Homo sapiens: one gene and its partners. The protein of the gene in region 3 interacts with the protein of the main gene of each other region in a biochemical or structural test. Each region holds a gene or a part of one and is shown on either strand. Other genes may lie near its edges.

Region 1 (5,101 bases), on a different chromosome or scaffold from region 3:
AACACGAGGCCAAGATAATTTTTACAGGTGAATTCTATTAAAATCAAATCTTATACCAATTCTAACAACACTCTATGCCTATTATGTTTCTACAATAAGCCTTTAGCCAACCAGGAGCAACCCAAAAAAACAAAATGTATTGTATGTAGTAGTTCACAATTGCAAACATTATAAGCATTCTTTTTACAATCAAAAGTGGGGAAAAGATGTTTTCTTTGACACTTCTCTTCAACATACTAGAGGTCCTAGACCATGCAGTAAGACCAAAAGATAAAATGAAACCACAAGGATTTGAATGAAACAAAACTCACTATTCACAGAGGTTATAATTACGTACTTAGAAAATTCAAAAGAATCTAAAGATGAATTATGGGAAGTAAATATTTTATCAAGATGGTTGCTACAAGTATCAGCTACATGTTTCTATGCTGGCAACAAACAGAAAATACAACTTTAAAAATATTTACTATAATAATAAAACAAAAAAGCACTCTAAGAATAAATCTGACAAAAGCAGAAATGTGATTTTTATGAAAAATGCATGGCAATTTTACAAAAATGTATTAAGGAAACCTAAGCAAATGGACAGAAATATATTTCTGAAGAAGACTAAATATTGTAAATATAGCAATTCTCCCCTAAATTAATCTATATGTTCAATAAAATTTCAACAAAAATCACATCAGAGTGGGTAGGTTTGAGTGATTATCCATCTGTTATTCATTTTTTATTTATTTGGCATAAGATCAACTGATGCTTCATTATATAGAAAAGCAGAGAACAAAGGAAGGTTGAGATGGTTTTAAAGGATGGTAATATAATGAGCTTTATGACATTGGCTAAGAGAGAGAAAAATAGCCTCATAAAGTAGGAGAACCAAAGATACTATATATGTAAGAGTAAGCTTGGAAGATACGTGAAGAAAAGAAGATGAATTAATCCAAAATAGTACTAAGAAAATAGGTTATCCCTACAAAAAAAAATTAAAATCGGATCGCTATACCACACTATAACCAAAGTTAACCATAGAGCTATAAGAAGATGCTATAGGAAGATGACTTTCTGATCTCCAAGAAGGGACTTTTTAAATCAGACTGAAATATGAAAGTTAAGGAAAAGTTTTATATATTTTAAAACTGTCACATCAAAATGTCTCTTCATTAACAGATAAAAAGAAAAACATAAGTCATTAAAATGCAACAAAATTTGTAACTAGATCCCCTTAGAATCAACTTTTTAAATGACAGACAATACAGCAGGGAAAAGAGATCAATAGTGATTTTACTGAGCAAAAAAACCACATATGACTATTAAACATAAATAAAAATGTCCAATTCCATTATAAACAAGAAAATGTAAATTAAAAACACAAGATACCATTTTCTAACCAACAGACTGATAAAAATTTAAGTCTCACAGTATTACATGTTAAAAAGGATAGAGTATAATATCCTTGAAGTACAATATCCTTAAAAAGGATAGAGTATAATATGAAAAGGATAGAATTTTCATATACCACTTGGGAAAAAAATTTGCCATGATTTACTAAAGTTAACATGTGCATAGCCTGTAATTCCTCCCGGAAATAAAATCTAGAGGAAAGCTCACATATGTGCACCAGGAGACATGTACAAGGATGTTTGTAACAGCATCATGTTGTCTTTTAATTGAACTTTTTCAGATAATTCTAGATTCACAGGCAGATTGGAGAAATTATATGGAAATATCCCATGTAGCTTCTACCTGGTTTACCACAATGGCAACATCTTGCAAAACTATAGTTCAATACCACAACCAGGATATTTCATTCACACAGACCAGATACAGAACATCTCCATAACCACCAGAATCCCCAGTGTTATCCTTCTATAGCCACACACACTTGCCTCTAACTTTCACCCCATCCTTACCCACCGGCGACCAATGATTTCTCTATTTTTTGTGTACAGTTTGGTCATTTCAAGAATGCTACATAAATGAAGTCATACAGTACGTTACCTTTAGGGATTGGCTCTTTTCACTCAGCATAATTCTCTGGAGATTCATCCAGGTTGTTGTATATATCAACAGTTTGTTACTTCTTCTTGCTGAGTATTATTCCATGATATAGATATACCATAGATTTAACCATTCACCTGTTGAAGGATATTTGGTGTGTATCCAGTTTGGGTCTATTATGAATAAAATTGCTATAAATACTCAGTTTTATGCACATATACGTCTTCAATTTCTCTGGGATAAATGCCCAAAGTGTAATTGCTGAGTCGTATAGTAACTGCATATTCAGCTTTTCAGAAACTGTCTATTTTCCAGAGTAATTGTACCATTTTACATTCCTATCATCAATAAGTGATCCAGATTCTCTTCATCCTTACCAGCATTTGGTGTTATTACTATTTATTTTAGCTATTCTGATACAGGTTTGTAGAGACCTATCATTATGGTTTTAATTTGCATTATGGCTAATGACACTTATTCATGTGCTTATTTGCCATATGTATATCCTCTTCAGTGAAATGTCTCTTCATGTCTTTTGCCCATTTTCTAATTTGGTTTTATGTTTTTTTGTTTTTTGTTTTTTACTGCTGAGTTTTGCAAGTACTTATTCTAGGGACTAGTCCTTTCATTTTGGGCAATTTTTGCATAAAGTGTGAGACACAGATCAAGGTGTTTTGTTTTTTCTTCTGCCTACTAATGTTCAGTAACAGCACTGTTTTTAGGAAAACAAAACAAAACCCCAAATGTTCATCATCAGAACAGATATATAAATTGTGGTATATTCATCAATGGAATGTCAAATAAAAATGAAAGAACTAAAGATACATAGAGCAATATAGATGAGACCAGATACATGATACTGAGTGAGAGAGGCAAATTGCTGAAGAACATATTGTACATACATTGTGAGTGACTCGATTTATATATGGTTGTAAAACATACAAAACTACACATATGAAAAATATGTTAACACTATTTAAAAAGAGACCCCAAAAAAGCAGAATTTAAAGAGTGGAATTTACCTCTGAGGTGGGAGTAAGGAGAAGACTTAGAGAACTTCAAGGTTAACAAGAAATTATATTTCTTAAACCAATTGGTGGGTACACAGGTGTTCATCACATTGTCATTCTGAATATGTTCTCATTATTTAAAAAAAAAAACTTTAAAAGGTTATTTTTCAAATTGAGATTTGCATAAGCAAGAGCTAAGAATAATAGCTGGTAAGATGTCACTTTAAAGATCTTACCCTCAGCAGGTAAAAAAACAGTTATTATAAATTGTAATACAGGAACATACCAAACAGACCCTTGTTAGGGAAAGATGACTTCTGAGCAAACAGGTGACTTCTGACAAACCATTCTTATCCCACAAGCCTCATTTTGCCCTTGCAGGCTCAGCGCCTGACTTTTCTTTCAACTTCAAGTCCCCCAGTCATTCACCTTCTCTCCACACAGTTCCTTCTGCTTTGTTTTACAGCATTCTGCCCTCCTCGGGTGGCAATGCTTTAAGTCAACACCAACATCTGACCTCTCCAGCTTATCCACAGGACTTATCTTCTTAAGAGATGGTGTGAGGACAAAGGGTGAGCCTTCCTGACTTGAATTAATGACGACCCACAATTGAACAAGTTTCTAATGTTCATATTTACAAAGAATATAGTCTAGAATCTCAGTTAAATCCATATTAAAAGTAACCCCATGCATAACATTATTCACACATATAATTGAGATAAATCTCAGCACACAGATAGGAAAACAAAGACAGTCAATTTCAAACAACTAATAAAATTATTTAACCATTACAAAATCCCTTAACCATGCCGAATTTTGCAAAATATCTAAGAAATTATTATGCAAGACACTGAAAGATGTGTTATTAAGTAGTTAATTGGTATTTTTAATAGTTAGGACTGTTTTCCTCTTCTGTCTTCTCCTCCTCTCCTCTTTTCCTCCCACACTTTCTCCCTTCCTCTCCCTTTCTCTCTCTCTCCCTCTCTCTCTCTCACACACACACAGACACACAAACACAAACACACACCCCTTGCTGGTTAAAAACTTCTTAAAAACATACAACTGCCTGTATTTGTATATATACATATGCATTTGGTGTCTTGTTATAACTTCCCTTTAAACCACATATTAATGGGCAAAAAAAGTCCTAACATTCTATCTGTTGAAAAGCTGGGTCTGTCTCCAATAAACATAGTTGCTCGTTTCAGTCAAATCAGCTTATTTACTAATTATAAAATATAATTTTAAGATGGCCAAAACGAAGTAGTAGGAAAAGTATATTACTACTTTAATGGAATTTGCTTCTATTTTTGAGGTCTGTCCCAAAAGGACAAATATGTTGACTTATTTTTAAAGGTTTCCTTTCAATGTTTCAAGTTATAAAGCACTGCTGCTTTTGTAAAAGATCCTATTAATTTCTTAACAGAGTGTTAGACCTGATCCCCTTATATCCAAAATGGTAAATGCTGTCTAATAAATACATGGGTGATTGAATAAGGGTCACTGACACTTGGGTAACTGTTTAATACAGAAACAATTTATAATATATATCTCTCTACAAAACTAAAGCTGAGCAATCAATAATTTTGTCTTCCTTCGTCTACAAGTAGCTTATTCAACATTAACTAGTAAACCAAGGGTGAAAGGGAGGGTTGTAAATCACGAAGAAAAGATTCATTTTATTCTTAATTCCCACTTGAATCTATGTAAAATGTTAAGTTACAGACAGTTAAGGAGAAGCTGTTGTGTTTGAATATGTAATTGCTATTTAGATGATAATGGCGTGGATGTCGCAGCAGAACCATGATCCAAATTTGAATAAGGTCTTAATGAAGGAGGCTAAGAGAAGAATGACGACTGAAATACAACAGTGTCAGCAACAGACCTTAATGAAGCAAATTACTTTCAGTACCTTTGTGATTCAGGAGGAGCCGCATTAAAAAAGTGACAACTAAAGGATCAAAAGCAGGACCTTTGCAAACTAAACATGCTTAAAACATGACATCACTGTCTGGGCAACAAGGCATTGTGGAAAGCAGCCTCAATGTTTGGGTTTTACAGCTCACATAGCAAAATAACTACATTAAAAGATC
Region 2 (5,101 bases), on a different chromosome or scaffold from region 3:
TATTCAAAAAACGTGTTTATTTTTAAATGCCAAATGTTAACTACTACTTCTTCTCAGTTCTTACATTCTGATTGTTGAGAGAAGAATTCTATTTAAAAGCCATGAAAGGCCAGGCGTGGTGGCTCACGCCTGTAATCCCAACACTTTGTGAGGCCAAGGCAGGCGGATTACTTGAGGTCCGGTGTTCAAGACCAGCCTGGCCAGCATGGTGAAACTCTGTCTCTACTAAAGATAGAAAAATTAGCCGGGCATGGTGGTGCACGCTTGTAATCCCAGCTACTTGGGAGGCTAAGGTGGGAGGATCACTTGAACCCTGAGAGGCAGAGGCTGCAGTAAGATGAGATGGCGCCACTGCACTCCAGTCTGGGCAACAGAGCAAGACTCCATCTCTAAATAAATAGATGCATAAAATAAATAAATAAATAAATGGCATGAGAACTTTTAACTAGAGATTTTATTGAAAACAGAACACTAGAATAATATTTTCTCTTTTCAAACGTAATTCTATTAAGGAGATACCACCATCAGCTTATAGAATGCTTCAAAAATTGGGAAAGAACTATAGTTCTCAATATGTTACTTCTAATTTCACTATAACACTCAGTACCAGGAGGAATACGTCATAAAAGTTTTAAAGCCTTCAGAGATATTTAGATTAGGCAATGTTCCAGGCACTACAAATAAAGCAATGAAGACAAAGTTTCTAGCCTCATACAATTTATATTTTGCAGGAGGAGGAGACAAATAATAAAAACATAATTTTATACAATTAGAGCCATGAGCACCATAAAGAAATTAGAAAAGGCAAAGAGACAATACTTAGATTGATTAGAAGGCACTGGGACAAGTACCTTAATGAAATGAAGCTGGCTGTACTAACACCTGGAGGAAAAACAGTCCAGGCAGAAGGAATAGCAAACACCAGAATGACTGGCTTGTTCAAGTAATATCAGGGCCAGTGTGGCTGTAATCAACAGACATTAAAAAAGACCATCAAGAGGTATACAGGGGTAAGTCTATGTAGAATATTAGAGACCATGAAAAGAGCTTCAATTTTATTCTCAATGAAATGGAAAGCACTAAACAGTTTTAAGCAAGGGAACAGTGACTTAATTTAGTATCACTTAAACTTTAAAATTAGCCTGGCTGCTGTGTGGAAAAAGAACTTGACTAAAGAGGAACAAGAACAGATGGAATGAAGGAGATCAACAATAGGCTACACAGATGATAAGGGTTGTTTATGGTGGCTTGGATTAGGGTGTTAATGGGGGAAATGATTAATAAAAGGTGAGATTTTGAAAATTTTTTGAAGGTAGATTATAGATTTGCTGATAAGACTGTAAAGGGGAAGTGGGAAAAGTAAGGAATCAAGGCTAATTTATAAATTTTGATAGAGCCATAAACTGAAATGAGAATAAAAAACTCACACAGAGTTTGTTTTTTAAAAAAGATACAAAGCTTAAAATGAAGATGCAAATACATTAAGGAAGTTATGTCTTTCTATTCCAAGTACTAAAATACATATCTGGCACATTGTAAATTTTCTCCCTTCATTCAAGTCCATGATTAGACCTACATGCATAATGGTACACACCATGTGAAGAATTATTTCAATTGTTACATTAAAAATATCAAAGATGGGCACTACTGTTACCAAATGAAATCTTACAGCTTAACAGCACTATAGCAAGTGGTTCCACATACTCACCATTTTATGGAGATCAGTGTCAGGATAGTTCAGGTAATTCAGAAATTAAGTAAGTTGGAAGTGTGCAATGCTTTAGAAGAGGCAATCACGAAATGATATGTGTCACTGAATCATCATGGGAATAAAAAGCAACACTAATTCAACAGGGACCCTTAAGTATCCACTGTTTTTCTGAGTTTATGATGGAAACAGATATTTTAACAGATGCTACTTAGATGTGAACTTTGTATATGCAGTTGTGTATAAGACATAAACCTATGTTCAAGTACTATCTACAGGACACACACACACATATATATGTACATACTGACACATAATGGTCAAGAAGGCTGTTCAGTATTCAATAATAAACCAGTGTTCAACGGTAGTCATATCTATTAGTTGGGATTACAGTAGCTTTTTTATCCTTTTTACTCATCTGTATTTTGCTATTTTTCTACTCTAAATTTGCATCATTGGCCCAAACAAGCAAATTAGTAAATGCATTTGAAATCAATTTTAAAACCATACTACACATAACCTAGGTATATGAGGCATAAGGACAAAATGTTTACAAGACAACAGCCATGCTCATAAGGGCAAAAATATCCAAGAATTTTGAAGTAGAAATGTCCACACACAGACACATAATATGTTCTAAGATGCAAGACTATATTTTTGAAATGCTGTATCAGAAAAAAAAGGGATGGTACTTTATTCCTTATAATTTAAAAACTATGTTGGCAAGAGATATACATTCTTAGTTAATGCCATTTTCCTTTTACCTGTTTTCTCTCTTTAGGATTGAGAAGTAAGTACCGGGGATCAAAAACTATCTTGTGCAACTCCTTCTCCCACGTTGAAAAAGCAGACACCTTTAAAATAAAAACGTATTGCCTCATAATTAAGTCTCCTCTAAAAATATAAAGGTCATAATTTTGCTTGAAATCTACAGGATATCTGTTTATAAAGGAGACATAAAACCATACTGAAGTTTCCATCACTAATAAATGACAAGCAGTGGGAGGCTAGCAATAGCAAATTTCCACACTAATTGGCTCTGAACATTCCTATATTATATAGAAATAACAGACACTTAATTACTCATTAAAATAACTACTACTGTGTGACATTTTAAAAATCAGTACATCAGAAAAAGCCTTGAAGATTTATATTTTGATTTCTCATGCTTGCTCCAATCTTGTGAACAATGTTGTGATTTAAAATTGAACAATTTTACTTATTCAAATGAATCTGTGAATATAACCAAATAGTTGAAATCCCTTCTCAATTAAATTGCAAATAATAATATCACAAAGTATCAGTTCTCCTTTAACAAAAGCCATTCTCAAGATATTAAAGGAAGAATAATCATATATACCTTACCTATCCCAAGCAGTCCGCCATTCTGTAATGTTAATACTCGTCTTATATTACTCACCACAATTTAATGACCCAATAAATGTTAAGTGTTATTTGTACTTAAAAGGACAGTAAAATGGCATTTAGTTAAATATGATAAGATTAGCCAAGAAAAAGGCTGTTGCAAAAAATGTACAGTAATTTTAAAAATCCCCTTATCCCCCCCCATAACATGAGCACTAACCTTAGATTTGACCTTTTAGCAAGACATATTTATATTACTTATACAAAACAGAAATATCTCCCCCAAAGATTGTTTTCTGACCCCTCTCTCTAGCAGCATGTCCTTGAACTGCTTCATTCGAGCCTCCAGAGGGACAATGGCCCTTTCTCGGGCAGCTTTAATTTCAGCTTCCATGGCAGCTTCTTTCTCTGAGTCAATGTCTTTATTATCGTCTCTCCTATAAAAAATAAAATATAAGACATCAACTGACAAAATATTAATTCTCAGATCTTATTAGAAATCTTAAAATCAAAGGAATTTTCAAGACTCACTACTGAGCAGCATATTTTTGGCAAAAACAAATTATATTGAGGGTTTCAAATGAACTCTAAGGGATAAATAACTTTCATAATAACAAAATTAAAATGGGCTTCTAATGATTTACAATGGCTACATTATTAGGAAAAAAATACACCTTTAATGGGCTGTCTCTCCCTGACACTGGTTAATAACATAAAAAGGGAGCAACCTTACTTAAAAAAAAAAAAGTTTAACACTGCAGTAAACCTCTATGTGTCAGAATCAAACAGCACAAAATATAATTTTTTTAGTTCTTGAAATATAGAAAAAACAGTATTTTCCAAAATGTTTTACATTATAAACACATAAAATATTTTGTAAAATCTAATAAAAATTGGTATTAAGTGGTATAATGTTTTAGTAATCTCAAACATTCATTTTAAAAATAAAACTAAAATATCTGCAATCTTGGCCAAGTGAATATGTAAGATATATACCTTACCTACCTGACTTTTTATTACTCACTTTCTGGGTGATAAGTTGAGATTTAAGTTGAAGGACAGGTCCCAGAGAGCAACATGGGCCCAGGAGTAGTTAGGTGGAATTAGAACTGTTCATCAATGACTAAACTACTTCTTGTTCCTCCAAAAATGCACCTCAGGTGTAAGGGCAACCCTGTTTCTGTGTGGTACTCAAGTGAAATTGTAAACATGGAATCACGGCACCTCTCAAATATATGCACTATGAAAAAGGCCCATTCACGTAAATAATCCAAAAAAGTATGTAATTCAATAATATCTGGGTGTATTTTAGCAGATCTTCCTTCTTAAATATGATCTGCTAAGTATATTTTAAAAATTGGCTCTTATTCCCTATACAAACTTAAGGGAATTAGGAAAACAGAACATGTGGAAATTCAAAAGCATGCTATACAGGAAACTGTAGGTAGCCCCAGAGATTTAAATGGAACTAAGGCTAACCCACAAATGCAAGTGAGAGGTACTTAGCAACTTAGGCAATGAATCAAAAGAAATAGAAGACATAGTCCGTGACCTGCAGGAACTTAGCGAGATAGTCTGTGACCTAAGATATGCACAAAACAAACAGGTAAAAGCAATTTGCCAAACAATATACCCTCTTATAATAATAATTTTAAAACTATTTAAATAGTTAGAGTTAAAAGACATCCAAGAAGTAACTAATAAAAACAAATAACCTTTATAGAACTATACTAAATGAAAATGTCACAATACAAACTATCACTATCTATCTCAATAAAGGAAATAAAAGAAAAACTAAGCCAGGAAAAACAGGCTTTTAGCTTTGTACCTAAATAGAGAAGCTCGGGCAATCCACATAAAGGACTTCTTTGACATTCTCCTGATAAAAGCAGTTAAAAACCTTACAGAGTTGTCTATAAGAACAAACAATTAAAAACAACCTAAAAGTTTAACATCGTAGGAACATCCAAAATTATGGTACATAAACAGAATGAATACAGTCATTTATAATAATTAACAAAACAAATG
Region 3 (4,166 bases):
TTTGTCTTTCTGTTTCTGAGTTGTTTCACTCAAATTAATGGCCTTCAGTTTCATTCATGTTGCTGCAAAAGACATGATTTCATTGTTTTTTATGGCCGAATAGTATTCCATTGTGTATACCACATTTTTTTTTTGAGACGGAGTCTCGCTCTGTTGCCCAGGCTGGAGTGTAGTAGCGTGATCTCAGCTCACCACAACTCTGCCTCTCGGGTTCAAGCAATTCCCCTGTCTCAGCCTCCTGAGTAGCTGGGACTACAGGCATGTGCCACCACGCCCGGCTAATTTTTTGTATTTTTAGTAGAGATGAGGTTTCACCATGTTAGCCAGGATGGTCTCTATTTCTTGACTTCATGATCCGCCCATCTCGGCCTCCCGAAGTGCTGGGATTACAGGCGTGAGCCACCGCGCCCGGCCAACCAGAACACTGGATTTCTAAGATTTCTGTGGGGGACTGGGAGTAGGGATAAATGATGCTGATGGATCCTTCCTAGACTCAGTGCCCATCTGGGGACCTGGTCAGGGTGGGGTGGGGAGTGGTGTTGCGGTGTAAAGAATAATGAATTAAAGGAAACCTGAGACTCCCTCCTTCTCTAGCTTGGGGGAGTTCCCCTTTCCACCTAGAAATTCTTCCGTTGCTCTTGCAGACTGAAGAAGCCTGCCCTCTCTGGAGTCTCCCTCACCTTTATCTTCCTCCCCACTACCTTTCTCTTTTTCTCCTCCTCTAAAGGTAGGATGTCTGAGATCTCGAATTCACCAGATTTCAGAAATCGGAAGGGGCAGGGAGCTCAATTCTAGGCTTTGCTGTGCAACAGTTTCTAATTATGCCCTTGGAAATAGCTGTAAACGCCAAGGACGCTTTTGAGTTACTCCTTTGTTTCTGGGAGAGCAAGTCCTGAGGAGGCAGAGAGGTGACTCAGTGGGATCCCCGTTGGAAATCAGTTACCTCCATTGTATAGATGCGGAAACCAAAGCTCAGAGGTGAGGCATCTTTCCCGGGTTCTAGAGCAGATCTGTCTGATAATTAAGTCTTTGCCTTTTCCATTGCAATTGGCCAGTGCTTGATTTGAACTGGGAACTGGGCAGAGCCAAATTTTAAAAATGAGAGGGGGATCCTGCCCATCAAGATCCTGGTGTGTGAGTTGTTATGGGCATGGAGAATGGGGAGGTCTGCTCATTGAGTATGCTGCTCTTAATCTAGTATTGTGTTGATTGAATGATTTTTTTTTTTTGAGACGGAGTCTCGCTCTGTTGCCCAGGCTAGAGTGCAGTGGCACGATCTCAGCTCACTGCAACCTCTGCCTCCCGGGTTCAAGCAGTTCTCCTGCCTCAGCCCCCATTAGGAGCTGGGATTACAGGTGTGCACCACCATACCCAGCTAATTTTTGTATTTTTTAGTAGAGACAGGGTTTCACCATGTTGCCCAGGCTGGTCTCGAACTCCTGACCTCAGGTGATCCGCCCACCTCGGCCTCCCAAAGTGCTGGAATTACAGGCATGAGCCACTGCACCCAGCCGATTGAATTATTTTTTTAAAAAATAATTAAATGCATGACATCTGGCCTCATGCCAAGCCTTTTCTCACCTCAGGGCCTTTGCACTGGCTGCTCCCTCAGCCTGGAACCCCTTTTCCCCAAATATTAACTGGGCCGACATTTCTCTCTCTTTAGGTCCAGCACCACCATCACCTACTCCAAGTGACCATCCCTGACTGCTCCATCTGAATGTTGTTTCATCTGTATCTCTGCCTTACCACTCCACAGCATTTATCATGATCTGCAGCTATCTTTTATTTCTATTTGATTTCTTGTTTCTTGTCTGTCTCTTCCCCTAGAATGTGGATTTCACCCCCTAAGGGCAGGAATTCTTGTCTGTTTTTTTTCCCACTTCTTGATTCCTAGCCCCTAAAATAGTACCTGACAATAAATGTTGAAAGACAGAGGGGCAGAAGGAAACAAAGAAATACAGGCTAAATGACTGAGGGAATAAATGAATGAATGAATATATACATGTAAGGCTAAATAAATAAAATGGGATAAATGAATAAAAGGGACTTTGGGGGAAAGGGACCCCATTCCCACATTTGGAATGTAAACAGACTGAGATTTATAGAGAGACAGAAAGACAATTCTTTTATTTTTCTTTAAAAATCCTTGAGTGAAGAGAACTGAGAATTTTTGTATAAAAAGGGCCTTGGGATTGTTGGGTGAGTGTGAGGACCAGGCAGGGATAACAGCATTGGAGGGGTTGGTGGGGAAGAAATGGGGGGTTGGGGGCCTGGAAGAGGAGAGTGGAGGGTGGGCACAGAGCAGGTGGAGGGGGAGCCATGTCCTGCGGGGAGGAGCACAGGGCAGCAAGTAACTCAGCCACTCAGTCATCCCATTCATCATCTTCATCTTCATCGCCAGCCTGGTCCTCCCCTTCGTCTGGAGGGAAAGAGAAAGATAAGATGCCCTGGGAGGTTGGTGGGGGGCTTCATAGGGCCTGGGAGGTGAGGACTGGACCCTGGGGTTCTGAGGTCTCATGCTAGAGGAGGGCAAGTTAGAGTTTCCATTTGGGACAAGAAAGGGATTATAGTTGGGGTCTGAGTTCTAGTTGGAGTTGAAGTTTATGCTGTCAAAAATGTGGTTAGTCGAGATATTGTCAAACAAAGGGTTAATGTTAACCTATTTATCACATAATAGGGTGAATTTAAATAATATTAGCAAAGGTGTGATAATATATTATTGCTTCCTGTCTGGTTAACGCTAATATTTTTGACACATAATGGGGTTAATGACAATAACATCAAAATTAGCTGGGCGTAGTGGCGTGCCTGTAGTCCCAGCTACTCGGAAGGCTGAGGCAGGAGAATCGCTTGAACCCAGGAGGCAGAGTCTGCAGTTAGCCAAGATCGCGCCACTGCACTCCAGCCTGGGTGACAGAGCAAGACTCCGTCTCAAAAGAAAAAAAAAATCATTGTCGAAAGATGAAGTTCCTATAGTAGGTTGATACTAATATTTGCATCATATAATGGATTAGTGACAGTATTGCTGACAGATTAAGAGAGTAATAGTAACATTATTATAAAAAGATTAGGTTAACAGCCAGGCCTGGTGGCTCATGCCTGTAATCCCAGCACTCTGGGAGGCTGAGGCGGGGCAGATCGCTTGAGCCCTGGAGTTGCAGAGCAGCCTGGGCAACATGAGAGTAGTGAGAGCTTGGTAGTGAGAGCTCATCACTACCAAAAAAACACCAAAAATTAGCCAGGTATGGTGGCACACGCCTGTAGTCCCAGCTACTTTGGGAGCTGAGGCGGGAGGATCGCTTGAGCCTGGGAGGTTGAGGCTGCACTGAGCCATGATTGCACCACTGTACTCCAGCCTGGGACACAGAGCGAGACCCTGTTTCAAAAAAATTTTTTAAAAGATTAGATTAGGTTACGTCATAATGAATTAATGTAAATCTGTTAATACATGGAATTAAAATTAATATTGTCAACAATAGTGTTCTTCATAATATTGTCATCACATAATGGGTTAATTTTTTTTTTTTTTGAGATAGGATCTCTGTCACCCAGGCTGGAGTGCAGTGGCACAATCATGGATCACTGCTGCCTTGACCTCCCAGGGTCAAGCAATCCTCCCACCTCAGCCTCCCAAGTAGCTGGGACCACAGGCACACACCACTATGCTTGACTACTTTTTTTGAATTTAGTTTTTATGGAAACGAGGTCTCACTATATTGCCCAGGCTGGTCTCGAACTCCTGGGCTCAAGTGATCCTCCTGCCTTAGCCTCCCAAAGTTCCTGGATTACAGGCATGAGCCACCGCGCCGGCCAGCTGATGTTAATAGTACTGAACATGTGGGAATGACATTAATATTGTGGACACACCCTGGCATTAATGTTAATATTACTGTCAAAGTTGGAGTTAATTATATTATTGTCACATAATGACTTAATGTTAACATTGTCAAAAACGAGGCTGACACAAGATTCATGTTAATGCTGTCAAACAGATGGGGCTGATGTCACTATTGGTGGTGACTGCTGGGATTGTTTTGAGGCCAGTGCTAGCCCTGGGAGCCAGGTTTGAGGCCCCGGCAGGATCAGCTCACCGGAGGAGTGGATGGCTCTGCTTCTCTTCTGCATCACGTGCATCAGGGCCCCCACCAGTCCCTCTGAGCTCT
Region 4 (4,609 bases), on a different chromosome or scaffold from region 3:
CAGGCTGGAGTGCAGTGGTGCAATCTCCACTCACTGCAAGCTCCGCCTCCCAGGTTCACGCCATTCCCCTTCCACAGCCTCCTGAGTAGCTGGCACTACAGGCGCTCGCCACCACGCCTGGCTAATTTTTTGTATTTTTTTAGTAGAGACGGAGGTTTCACTGTGTTAGCCAGGATGGTCTCGATTCTCCTGACCTTATGATCCGCCCGCCTTGGCCTCCCAAAGTGTTGGGATTACAGGCGTGAGCTACCGCGTCTGGCCGTTTTTTTTTTTTGAGACGAAGTTTCACTCGTTGCCCAGGCTGGAGTGTAATGGCGCGATCTCAGCCTACCGCAACCTTCGGCTCACCGTAACCTCTGCCTCCCAGGTTTAAGCGATTCTCCTGCCTCAGCCTCCCGAGTAGCTGGGATTACAGGCATGCGCCACCACGCCCAGCTGAGTTTTTTTTTTTTTTTTTTTTTTTTTTGAGATGGAGTTTCGCTCTTGTTGCCCAAGCTGGAGTGCAATGGTGCGATCTCGGCTCACTGCAACCTCTGCCTCTCAGGTTCAAGCGATTCTTCTGTGTCAGCCTCCCGAATAGCTGGGATTACGGGCGCGTGCCACCATGCCCGGCTAATTTTTGTATTTTTAGTAGAGACATTGTTTCATCATATTGGTCAGGCTGGTCTCAAACTCCTGACCTCAGGTGAGCCGCCTGCCTGGGCCTCCCAAATTGCTGGGATTACAGGCGTGAGCCATCGCACCCGGCCCGGCTGGTTTTTGTATTTTTAGTAGAGACCAGGTTTCTCCGTGTTAGTCAGGCTAGTCTCAAACTCCCGACCTCAGGTGATCTGCCCGCCTGGGCCTCCCAAAGTGCTGGGATTACAGGCGTGATCCACTGCGCCTGGCCATATTAGTATATTTTATTTCATACATATACACAGAGAGAAAAAAAAGAAAAAGAGAAAAGAAAGCACTGATATATGCTCTAACATGGATGAATTAGAAAACATTAAGTCAAAGAAGCTAGACATAAAAGGCCACATGTTGTATAAAAAATTCAATTTACATGAATTATCCAGAATAAGCAAATCCATAGAGACAGAAAGTAGATTAATACTGGGAGGAGGGGTGGGAGGGACAGGGGGCTTGGGGAGGAATGTGGGGTGGGGTGGCTGCTAAAGAGTGCAGGTTCACTACACCGGGGTGATGAAAATGCTCTGGATTTACTGGGGATGGTTGTAAAACTTCATGTATATACTAAAAAAAGTGAATTGTACACTTTAAAAGGGCATTATGGAATGTGAATTTTATCTCAAAACAAATTGTAAGTGAATGTCAAAGACTGGCAATAAAGTTTTTCTGACATGGAATGTTAGAAATTTCTTTATTATTACTTATTCTTATTAAGCGCCAGCTTTAATGCTGCAGAAAATTTCAAATCACCCTTGATAACCCACTTTCTTTTCTCCCACCCAAATTCTTGATCAAGAGTTTTTCAAGTAAAGACATGCTCTTCTCTCTTCTGTATAAAACTTTACGAAATAAAGGCAAAAGATTGTGTACATCTTGCTGGAAAATGCTGCCCAGGGCTCTGGAGACGGTGGCTGCCCGGGCTCCCTTCACTGTCCAGGTCCTGAAAGACTCTTGTTCATGAACTGTCTCTTCACAAAGCAAGTCCACCACTAACAAGAGAGAACAACACAGAATGAACAGCGGGGTCAAATTACAATAGAATTTGCATTTATTTAATAATAAAATTTCACATTAGTCTGGAATCTCTTATAAACTTTTTTTTTTTTTTTTTGAGACGGAGTCTCGCTCTGTCGCCCAGGCTGGAGTGCTGGAGTGCAGTGGTGTGATCTTGGCTCACTGCAAGCTCCGCCTCCTGGGTTCATGCCATTCTCCTGCCTTAGCCTCCCCAGTAGCTGGGACTACAGGCGCCTGCCACCACGCCTGGCTAATTTTTTGTATTTTTTAGTAGAGACGGGGTTTCACCATGTTAGCCAGGATGGTCTCAATCTCCTGACCTCATGATCCGCCTGCTTTGGCCTCCCAAAGTGCTGGGATTAGAGGCGTGAGCCACCGCGCCTGGCCATAAACCCTTTTTAGACAAAGTCTCACTCTGTCATTCAGGCTGGAGTGTAATGGCATGATCTTGGCTCACTGCAACCTCCACTTCCTGGGTTCAAGCGACTCTCTTGTCTCAGCCTCCTGAGTAGCTGAGATGACAGGTGCACACCATCATGCCTGGCTAATTTTTTGTATTTTCAGTAGAGATGGGGGTTTCACCATGTTGGCCAGGCTGGTCTCGAACTCCTGACCGCAAGTGATCCACTCGCCTCGGCCTCCCAAAGTGGTGGGATTACAGGCGTGAGCCACTGCGCCCGGCCTGCAATTCATTATTTAGTGTGATTCAGTGAACTCATATTACATACTAGACATATACTGGAAGTTAAGCAACATTGCAATGCAGAAATTAAAAATATTCTTGCAATGGAAGACCTTAGTGTGTTCAATGGTGGCTATGGGATAAAAGGTGATTTACCAATTAAGCAGGCAAGAAGAGGGTCTTACCTTGCTGGGTTTATCATTCTGAGGGTCGAAAACTTTCTCACAAAGTCTCAGTCCAGTCTCTTGCCTTAGCTGTTGTAAATAGGCTCTCATCACTTCTAAAACAGAACAATTTAAAAAAAACTGTATTTGCAAATACATCCCAAATGTACTGGTTGCAGCTCTGGATGCTCACTGTGGTAATACATTTTTATACATTTGAACAGGATACAAAATAGAAATGACAGTCCAGATAGTTTTATAACTATATTTGTTTTTGTTCAAAAGATTTTCTGCATGTCATCCTTGTTGCCAAGAATCGTTTGTGAGAGTGACTAATAAGATAATGTACTTCCTATGATTTCACTCTCAATCTGTACATGAATCAAGGCAAGAAAAAGAGGGGTGGTAGGAAGTCAAATGGAGAAAATCTTCTTGTGTCACAGAGTGAGGATAGAGACCTGTTCTTACCATCTTCCTGTTTGTTTGCAGGTTTGGCATAAATTGCGTTAAGTGGAAAACCAGGCTCTCCAGGAATGGGAAAATTAGTGATTCCCAGCGTATACATTTCTTTCTCACCTTGGCTTTTGGAATTGCACTGGAAAAAAAAATATATATATATATATACACACACACACACACACACACACACACACACACACACACACATATTTTACAGGGAAAAGAAGAATTCTATCCTTGGACCCCAGGTTAAGAACCCTTGAGTCAAGGGCTTAAAAGGAATTCCTCTGTCAAGATTTCTGTCTTGAGAAAATATATTCAAAGCCTTAAAACACCACTACTTTTATCTTTGTGTCAGTCAATTATACTACAAGTTCAGGTAACTAAATTCAAATTTTTCTCTTAAGTCCATGCTGTAAGTCAGAGGAAATATTTTCTACTTGTCTTTAAAGTCTCAACAAATCCCAGATGACTGGGAGGGTAAATGCCTCTCAGCAATTTGTTTTCCTGATATACAATCATCCAAGTTTAATTACCTTTTGCAGTTTCTTCAGACATTCAGAAATGTAGAGAGTTATATATATCAAGGTCCTATCAGCTTCATTCTACAGGGAGAAAAAGAAGACTTAAAAACAGTTATCAAAACATAACAATGATGTGCAATGTATGCATTCCATCTTTGTCTTCTGATTATCTGCTGAATGCAGTGGTAGGACAGCCACTATCACATCAAAACTCCCATTCTCCAAATGCACAGTCTCCTCAGTCTCCTTTTCCGTCTGCCCCTGGGAGGAAGGCACAAGCCCCACTCTGAGATGTGCAGCTGCTTTTTTTTTTTGAGACGGAGTCTTGCTCTGTTGCCCAGGCTGGAGTGCAGTGGCACAATCTCAGCTCACTGCAACCTCCACCTCCCAGGTTCAAGCAATTCTCCTGCCTCAGCCTCCCGAGTAGCTGGGATTACAGGTGCCCGCCACCACGCCTGGCTAATTTTTCTATTTTTAGTAGAGACGGGGTTTCACCATGTTGGCCAGGTTGGTCTCGAACTCCTGACCTCAAGTGATCTGTCCACCTCAGCCTCCCAAAGTGCTGGGATTACAGGCATGAGCCACCACGCTCGGCTGAGTGGCTGCTCTCTCTTGTTTTTCTCGGCTCCCCTTGCCCCAGGGTTCCCAAGGATCTGTGTCAACAGCCCCTCACTGTATAGGAAGAAGTAACAAAGCTGCCTGGAAAGCCTGAACTGCTCCATATGGTTGGCTAATTTTTAAAAACCCTTCCCTTCAGGGTCTCTGCCGAGAACAGAAATAGTCATTACTCTAAAGGAGGAAGCAACTATTTCACATTTGACTTGCTCCCAAAGAACTCCATAATCTCAATGTCTTGACCTAACCAAAAAGAAAATGTGGAGAAGACAAATGAATGTTGATCAAATGTGGTATGGACTTTGGGTCAAATTTTACACAAATTTAGGCCAGGTGCAGTGGCTTATGCCTGTAATCCCAGCACTTTGGGAGGTTGAGGTGGGTGGATTGCTTGAGCCCAGGAGTTTGAGACCAGCCTGGGCAACATGGCGAAACACCGTCTCTACTAAAAATACAAAAATTAGCCAGTCATGGTG

Evidence for each region. The genes of interacting proteins can lie anywhere in the genome.
Region 1: the proteins of WAS (region 3) and RPA3 form a complex in vitro, tested with the Homo sapiens proteins (one study listed by BioGRID).
Region 2: the proteins of WAS (region 3) and TCERG1 form a complex in vitro, tested with the Homo sapiens proteins (one study listed by BioGRID).
Region 4: the proteins of WAS (region 3) and ARPC3 form a complex in vitro, tested with the Homo sapiens proteins (one study listed by BioGRID).

Annotation. Positions count from the first base shown.
Region 1 is NC_000007.14:7,707,839-7,712,939, reverse strand, and holds part of RPA3 (replication protein A 14 kDa subunit), read left to right. Parts: intron 1-5,101. UniProt on the Homo sapiens protein: As part of the heterotrimeric replication protein A complex (RPA/RP-A), binds and stabilizes single-stranded DNA intermediates that form during DNA replication or upon DNA stress.
Region 2 is NC_000005.10:146,481,001-146,486,101, reverse strand, and holds part of TCERG1 (transcription elongation regulator 1), read right to left. Parts: exon of another isoform or gene 4,953-5,101; coding exon 4,902-4,952; exon of another isoform or gene 4,656-4,901; coding exon of another isoform or gene 4,532-4,655; exon of another isoform or gene 3,511-4,531; coding exon 3,375-3,510; exon of another isoform or gene 2,563-3,374; coding exon 2,473-2,562; intron 965-2,472; exon of another isoform or gene 852-964; intron 390-851; exon of another isoform or gene 65-389; intron 1-64. UniProt on the Homo sapiens protein: Transcription factor that binds RNA polymerase II and inhibits the elongation of transcripts from target promoters. Regulates transcription elongation in a TATA box-dependent manner.
Region 3 is NC_000023.11:48,689,363-48,693,528, reverse strand, and holds the end of WAS (actin nucleation-promoting factor WAS), read right to left. Parts: coding exon 4,095-4,166; intron 3,380-4,094; coding exon of another isoform or gene 3,060-3,379; exon of another isoform or gene 2,423-3,059; coding exon 2,367-2,422; 3' UTR 2,102-2,366; downstream 1-2,101. UniProt on the Homo sapiens protein: Effector protein for Rho-type GTPases that regulates actin filament reorganization via its interaction with the Arp2/3 complex. Important for efficient actin polymerization. Possible regulator of lymphocyte and platelet function.
Region 4 is NC_000012.12:110,433,554-110,438,162, forward strand, and holds the end of ARPC3 (actin-related protein 2/3 complex subunit 3), read right to left. Parts: intron 3,600-4,609; coding exon 3,531-3,599; intron 3,131-3,530; coding exon 3,004-3,130; intron 2,652-3,003; coding exon 2,557-2,651; intron 1,665-2,556; coding exon 1,602-1,664; 3' UTR 1,270-1,601; downstream 1-1,269. UniProt on the Homo sapiens protein: Component of the Arp2/3 complex, a multiprotein complex that mediates actin polymerization upon stimulation by nucleation-promoting factor (NPF).